2 linked regions of the Homo sapiens genome follow. The protein of the gene in region 2 purifies or fractionates together with the protein of the main gene of each other region. This does not show direct contact. Each region holds a gene or a part of one and is shown on either strand. Other genes may lie near its edges.

Region 1 (3,748 bases), on a different chromosome or scaffold from region 2:
TAATTCAAGTGAGAAACAACAGGGCAATTACTAACTTAAGGAAAAACAAAAGACTATACCGTATAAGAAAAGAGATGTAATCATAATATTGTAACTTGGCTCTGTAATGGACAATATCTACCTAGTTATAATGATTCAGAGAATGACACTTTAAATAAAATTGGTGATATAACTACGTCTAATCGTATAATTCACGAGGTGACTTTGGTTTAGACATTTCTGTCTCTGGGCCTCAGTTTTCTCAGCTGTGAAATTAGAGTGTGAGTCCTTTCTGCATCTTTGAAAGTTACCTAAGCCCTTGACAAGGTTTGAAAGGCAGCCATTTGCAGAAGTTACCTCCTCCTACAAAAACTGTTTTTGATGTGCTGCTAATGTTTCCATAAAACAAAAAGAAAGCCAAGTTATTTTAATAGGTTAGCATAAAAAGGAGGTATAAATAAATATAAAGGTAGGTAGCTTTACAGATACCAAGGCTAGGTAGGGATAATTTCCTTAATTTTCACTGAATTAACACAAGTCCATAAAAGAATATTAAACAACCCAAAAGAAAAATATGCTAAGAATATAGACAAAATCCTCAAGTTAAAATATGTAAGTACATAGTAAATATATGAAAAAAGAAGAGGGCTCCTTCATAATTAGAGGAATGCAAAGTGAAATAAGTTATAGCTTTTCATCTGTGAGACAGGCAGAATATTTAAAGTTGTCCATACCCAGTGCTGGAAAAGGAGTGGGAAAAAAGGCACTTTCGTAGACTGTTGGAGAAAGTGTTAACATAGGAGATTATTTGTCAACAGCATAGTTTTTGAACTTTTGAAATCCCACTTGTAGGAATTTATCTTATGCACGTTTATCAGGATATAATATGTAAAAGGCTATTCATTGTGGCATTGCTTGTTTCTAGAAAGATAAACGAATGAGTCAGGAATTGAATAGCCACTTTTCTCAGTAAACCGCCCATAAAGAGTAGCCCCTGGTGGCAGCCTCTGGTAATGCAGGCATAGTGTTTAGGAGGCTAATTTAGGTGACACTGTTCATCACCCTTGTTGATTTACCTTTAAGAGTATTGTCAACTGTCTCAAGTCCCTCGTGAAGAACAGGTTCCAGCTTATCCACGACATTGCTTAGGTCATTGCCAAGATTGTCAAGAAGAGACTCTGAGGTCCCAGTGAGCACGCCGCACAGGAGAACAAGTTTCCAAAGCTGAAGCATCTTTTGTCTTGACACCTGGACAGTCATGGGAAGAACAGGAGTGAGAATTGCCCAGAGGGAAATGGACTCTTCAGTGAGTTCCCATCACTCTTAACATTTAGCATTCCATTAAGATAGATGTGGTTATTTCCTATTTTACAAATGGGCAGCCAAGGTCAGAAAGCTACAGCAACTTGCCCGGAGACACACAGTCAGTGAGCAGAGGAGCTGGGATTTGAAAAGTCAGACTTGACTCCAAGCCCATACTCTTGACACAAAGTTCCTTTTCATACGCTGTCTTCTCTGCCTAAAATATTTTTCTTCTTCTTTACTTTTCCACTTAGGTCAATTCCTACATCATGCCCTCTGTGAAGCCTACTGTAGGCCCCTTCCCAGATTCTAGGTTGGAGGAGTCCCACCTTGCTGCCTTCATTATCCTGATCAAGGTCTTGGATAACACTTCCCTGATGATTTGACCACCTTTCCTACCAGGCTGTGAACTCCTTAGAGGAAGGACTGTGACTTATTTCACTGTCGAATCCTCAGGCGCCAGTAAAAAGCCTGCACCTAGTACAGTACAGTAAACGAATAAATCTTTGTTGAATATAAGTATGAACAAATCAATGGAGACCACCTCATGACCCTGCATTGTTCATTAGTTTGACACTTATTTTAATATAATCTATAGATCTCTAAATTTACTCTGATTTGCCATTTGTCTTGACACCTGGACAGTCATGGGAAGAACAGGAGTAAGAATTGCCCAGAGGGAAATGGAATCTTTAGTGAGTACTCATCACGAACTTGCCATTTAGAGCACATTTAGAGATATATTGATTATCTCTGCTGTATTCAAAATATTAGCTAACCCAAGCAATCCCACCCCTCTGCCTCTTGCCCCCAAAGCCTTCCAAAGACCACCACGTGTGGTGCCACTGGGGGGAGCACGCCACTCACGCGTTTAGAGGAGGATGCTCATGAAATCCTTGCCCCACTGCACAGTCTGCTGGGATTCTGCTGAATGGTGGCGGCTATTATATGGTGGAGATGGGATGGAAGGCTGCCCACAGAAGCAAGCCTTGGTTCTGGGATCATCCAAGGACACTCCAAGGAAAATAACCCCTCTCCAGGATGAGCAGAGAGAGAGATTTCCAACTCAAAGGTCACCCAGGATGCTTGAATTGAAACGGATGGCTATGGAGAGGGCTTTCCGCCAAGACTAAGACCAGGTCCTCATGGAGCCTGCAGCTACCGAGGGGGTGGTCCTTGGTCCTTGTGGGTGAGGACTGGGAGAAGACTGAGAATGAATGAATTGGAGAATGTCCTGGCAGGAGGACCCATAATGACCATCCGGTCTAACTCCGTCATCATTTGGAAACTGAGGCTCAGAGAGGGGAAGCCACCAGCCTGGGGTCATTCAGCAAGACAGGGACCGAGATGGGTCTAGAATTGTGGCCCACAAGGAGTCAGACAGCCTCCCAGGGGTCCTGCCCCCAGGGGTCTGCACCCGGCAGGTGCAGCAGATGCCTGGCAGCTGCTTGTGCTGACACTGGGCTTGGTGTCCCTAAAGGGCACTTTAGATGCACTTTTCTGTTAGTCTTTATGAAAACTCTGTAAGGCAGGTTTTCAGAGCTCCATTTTCCAGTTGAGAAAGCTGAAGTTCAGAGAGGGAGGTGGCTTGTCCATACTTGCAAGGACAGGAACCAGGCATTTGGGCCACCAGGGAAGACCCTTCCACCCATATCAGGCTGAGGTCAGTTAGCAGAGAGGGAGAGTCCCTGGGCCTGAGTATCCTGTTTTTGCTTCGGCCACTGATGTTTGGGTTGGTTGTAACGCCTGCTGCATTGGGCCTGTGTCAACCCGGAACAGCACAGGAAACTCGGGTGGGTGCCCACTTGGCCTCAGGCTGGGAAGGACTGGCACAGAGCTCAGGGTCACCATAGGTCTCTGCCCTTCTGCTCACCCACCTGCAATTCAGCAAGGACCTGGGGGGCCTGTCCTCAAAATGATGCAACCAAGCAAACGGTGGGACAAGACCAGTGGCTCCAGGAGCTGGCTGTTCCTACACTGACCATGGCTCCACTGTTACAGCACAGAGCTGGGCGGCTGCAGGAAGGTGATGGCCAGGCCCCAAGAGCCCAGACCATTAGACCCCTGCTGCAGTCTTGCCTGTGGTCTTGAATGGTTGTCACACCTCCTTCCCTGGCTGCCTGACACCGGGTTCTCCAAACGTCTGAGCCCCGCTCTTCCCCCAGTTGTGAAGCACAGAGCCAAGGGCTGTGCTGAAATCTTGTGAAGGCAGTTTGTCCCAGCCCAGGAACATAGCCCAGGGTGCTGAGCATGATGCAGTGACCTCGAGACCTGGTGTTGGCCCAGGCCTCAGTTGCCTCATCTGTAAAATGGGTAAACACGCTGTTCCTGGATCTCAGAGGCATGGTGGACAGGCAAGGACCTAGGAAATCAAAACGATGGTGAGGGGCTTTGAGGGCAGTGCTCAGAGCCTGGCACTGGGCTTGGGCTGTCCTGGGCATGAATACTCTCTCTCTGCTGGTTGCTG
Region 2 (3,748 bases):
AGAGGAATGGAAGGGCCATCCCCAATCAGTGAATGGCACCAGGCGGGAGACCAAGGCTGGTAGGGGGCCTGGGAGGGAGGGTATAGTGGGGGAGGAGAGGGCCAAGGGCTTGGTCACTTGTTGGGGGGAACATGGCTGCCTCATCTATGACTTGGTGGGAGTAGGGTAGGTCCAGGTACATATTGGGTAGGAAGCCCCTTGGAGATGTACCTCCTCTCTCACATGTGTGCATATTTGGGGTACAAGCTCCTGCACTGGTCTCAAATGGGAACAAGGGTCACAGACAGGTCTCGGGCTTTCTGGATACACCCAGGTGGGAGGGTTCTCCTTGCACCTAGATATAACCCCATCCCCTTCCCCATATAAAGCTTGGGAAAAAGCTGGAGGGAGGCCATGGTGGGTGGGGTGGGCTGGGAGTGGGGGTGGCTGGAGACAGCCCAGTCTGCCACCAGTTTTTGTACAGCCTGTAAGCCTTTACATATTTACATAGTTGAAACAACTGCTGCCCCCCCTGCAAAAAAGCCACCAATATTTTGGGACAAGTAAATATTACATGATATTCAAATTCAGTGTCCATAAACACAGTTTTGTTGGAATCCATCCTCTTCTGCTGGTCTCCTAATAACCTGTGACTGCTTCTTGCTAGTTGGGACAGACGGTGTAGGCCGCGAAGTCTCTAATCTTTACTGTCTGGCCTTTACTGAAAGGCTTGCCCATCTCCTACCTGAACCCTCCTGACCACAGACAGGGAGGTGAGTGGGGCCAGCTGTCCGGCCACTGCCCTTAGAGACCAGCCAAATAGAATTAGAGTTTCTCCAGTTTCGGGCTATATATTTGGTCCTCCCCAGACTCTGGGAATACCACCATGGAGCTGGGGGCCAGGCGTGGGGCTCCATCCCTCCCCCCTAAACCTGGAGGGAGGGCCCGCCCTCGAGTGGGCAGGGCCTGGAAGAGGAGAGGCCTCCTAAGGGGCGGTGGGCTCAAGAAGGCTGCGCAGGTGTTTGTGCCCCGACCGGGTGGGCCTGAGGTCCTGCCTCAGCCCTCCCTTACCTTCCTCCGATTCAGGAGCAGAGGAGGAAACGTTCGCTGTCCCTCCTGCCGCCTCCCAATAGTCCTCCCTCTGAGGGCGCTGTCTCCCTCGCACTGCTCCCTACCCAGGGTCCTGTCTCAGCCCAGCCCCCGGCTCCCCTCCTCCCGCCTTCGGGAGGCCAGGCCTTCCTTCCCCTTCGCCCCGGCTTCCAGGCCCCGGGTCCCGGCCGCCCCGCCCCCGGGCCGCGTAGCCCTCCCGCCGCTCACCTGTGCCCACAGGTGTCACCGCACCCGCTGCCCTGCGCCGCCCTCCCCGCCCGCGGGGCTCCCCGTCGCCGTCGGCTCCCCGGCGATGCCAGCCAGCCCCGATGCCCAGCCTGGGACTGGGATCGAGCGGCCCGCGGGAGCCGGGCAGCGCGGGTCCGGGCGAGGAGGGCGGGGACCGGGCTGGCCCCTCCCTACCGCCAGCACCGCTCGGGGCAGAGGGGCAGAGGGGCGGGGCCCTGGGGACCGAGCAGCCCCCGCCCTCACGCAGCCACCGCCTTCCCCGGAGAGGACAGCTCACGTGGCGGTGCCCTCCTTTCCCCTTTTCGGTCGCACCTGAACTCGACACCCGCCGGCCGAGCGGGAGGGCTGGGACCGCGCGCCCTCCACTCCGGGCCAGACCCCCGCGAGGCGCTGCAGTAATGAGGGCTGAGTAAGGGGCGGGGCGCCGCCGGGGGAGGCGGCGAGGGTGACAACCTGTGGCAGGCACCCCTCTCTCCTGCTGGTCGCGGCGAGTGGCCGGCCGTCCGGTCCTCCCCCTGCCTCGGCCTAGACCCCTAAGCAGGCAGGGAGCCCGCCTGCCAGCTGGAGGGGCAGGGGGCCCCGTCGCTGTGTGGAGTCCAAAGTGTGAGCCTTATCTCTCAGAGGACCGGCTGGCCTGCCTGGTGGAAGGTGATACTGGAAGGCTATCCTGGACTTTGCCTTTGCTCCAGGGATAGGCAGCTGAGGCCTGACCCGCACTTCTCCTATGACCTAAGACTCAGGTGGGGGCACCCTCCCAGTTCACCTGCAAATAAGCCCACTCCCGGCTACACCAGGGTCACCCAGCCCTTGCGGTGGCTGCTAAAATAGATGCTGTGGGGCCAGGCGCGATGGCTCACGCCTGTAATCCCAACACTTTGGGAGGCCGAGGCGGGCGGATCACAAGGTCGGGAGATGGAGACCAGCCTGGCCAATATGGTGAAACCCCGACTCTACTAAAAATACAAAAATTAGCTGGGCATGGTGACGGGCGCCTGTAGTCCCAGCTACTTGGGAGGCTGAGGCGGGAGAATCGCTTGAACCTGGGAGGTGGAGGTTGCAGTGAGCCAAGACAGCACTACTGCACTCCAGCCTGGGCAACAGAGTGAAACTCCATCTCAAAAAAAAAAAAAAAAAAAAAGAAAGAAAAAGAAAAAGATGCTGTGGAAGGACTGACACATGCTGGGCATTGCATGAAAGGACCATACTTTATTTTCTTTATTTTTAAAATTTATTTTTTAAAAAGAAAATAGAGACAATATCTTGCTGTGTGGCCCAGGATGGACTCCAACTCCTGGGTTCAAGCGATCCTCCTGCTTCGGTTTCCCCACCTTTTCACTTCTCCAAATCATGGCACCTCGTCTGACAGAAGCACTGGATATTTGAGATAGAAGTGTCCTGTGGATGTGTGGTCATTATAATCTCACAACCATGAAACCCAAGACCCTGTAGTTGGCAGGTGGCAGGTCTGAGGCTCCCAGCCCCTCACCCTGACTGTGGTCTATTTCCTGCCAATGAACTCAACAGTGATTGATACGGCTCCTTACTTCTTCAGAGCATCCTGAAGTTCAGGAAACACTTTCAGAAGCAGAATCTCCTTGAGTTGCCAGGGGAAAAGGCCTCTATTCCCTTTTCCCATCTAGGCTATGAAACGCATACATGATCAGAGTGTTCTAGTCCTCACTCGGACTCTGGTGACTCTATTTTGTTTGGAGGAGGAATCTATATCTTTGGGCAGTTTCTAATTTTGTATTCCCTGTGTCCATCCTCAAATCTGCCCTCTGGGATTCTCTTTCTCTGAGCTTGCTGTTGTGTGATTGCTCTGCTGGTTCAGAAGTGTCCTCTGTTCCTCCAGCTCCTTGAACCAGCCTGTCTCCTGCTCCTGGCCCAGCTGGTGGTGGGACTAGTTTTCGGGGGTGAAGTCAGGTGGGAAAGGAACTGCAGTGGCAAGAAACCAGAGTGTGCCTAGTTCCTAGCCCTTCCCTCTTCCCATTCACTGTGTGTGTGTGTGTGTGTGTGTGTGTGTGTGTGTGTGTGTGTGTGTGTGTGTGTGGTGAGAGCTAGACAGAGATAGAGAGATGTCCAGGGATGACAAGAGTAGCCATGAGGGAAAGAGTTAATAAGCCAGGAGAGGAGGTGGTGATTACGGACAGTATTAAATGACACCCCAGAGACAGCTGGTGCCAATGGCCCCTAGCTTCTCCTCCCAGTGTCTCCCAGAAGGAGTGGGAAGGAGGAATAAGAGGGAAGATGAAATTGAGAGAGCACCAAAGACAAGCCTGGGCTTACAGTGCTCTGGGGTGAGCTGGCTAGAGGGGCCCAGTGGCAGGTGGTGGTGGGTGGCGGGGTGGTTAACCCTTTCACTTCCCTCTAGGCGTTGAGGTCCAGTCTCCACCCACTACTGCCCCAGGGCCTGTCTTCAGCCTCCCTGGGA

The links.
Region 1: the proteins of PLEKHG6 (region 2) and BPIFA2 purify together in Homo sapiens (affinity purification with mass spectrometry; 2 studies listed by BioGRID and IntAct, with this or other methods). This does not show direct contact.

The regions. Positions count from the first base shown.
Region 1 is NC_000020.11:33,166,610-33,170,357, reverse strand, and holds the start of BPIFA2 (BPI fold-containing family A member 2 precursor), read right to left. Parts: upstream 2,200-3,748; 5' UTR 2,149-2,199; intron 1,228-2,148; 5' UTR 1,213-1,227; coding exon 1,056-1,212; intron 1-1,055. UniProt on the Homo sapiens protein: Has strong antibacterial activity against P.aeruginosa.
Region 2 is NC_000012.12:6,308,397-6,312,144, reverse strand, and holds the start of PLEKHG6 (pleckstrin homology domain-containing family G member 6), read right to left. Parts: upstream 1,464-3,748; 5' UTR 1,297-1,463; intron 1,146-1,296; exon of another isoform or gene 1,051-1,145; intron 1-1,050. UniProt on the Homo sapiens protein: Guanine nucleotide exchange factor activating the small GTPase RHOA, which, in turn, induces myosin filament formation. Also activates RHOG. Does not activate RAC1, or to a much lower extent than RHOA and RHOG.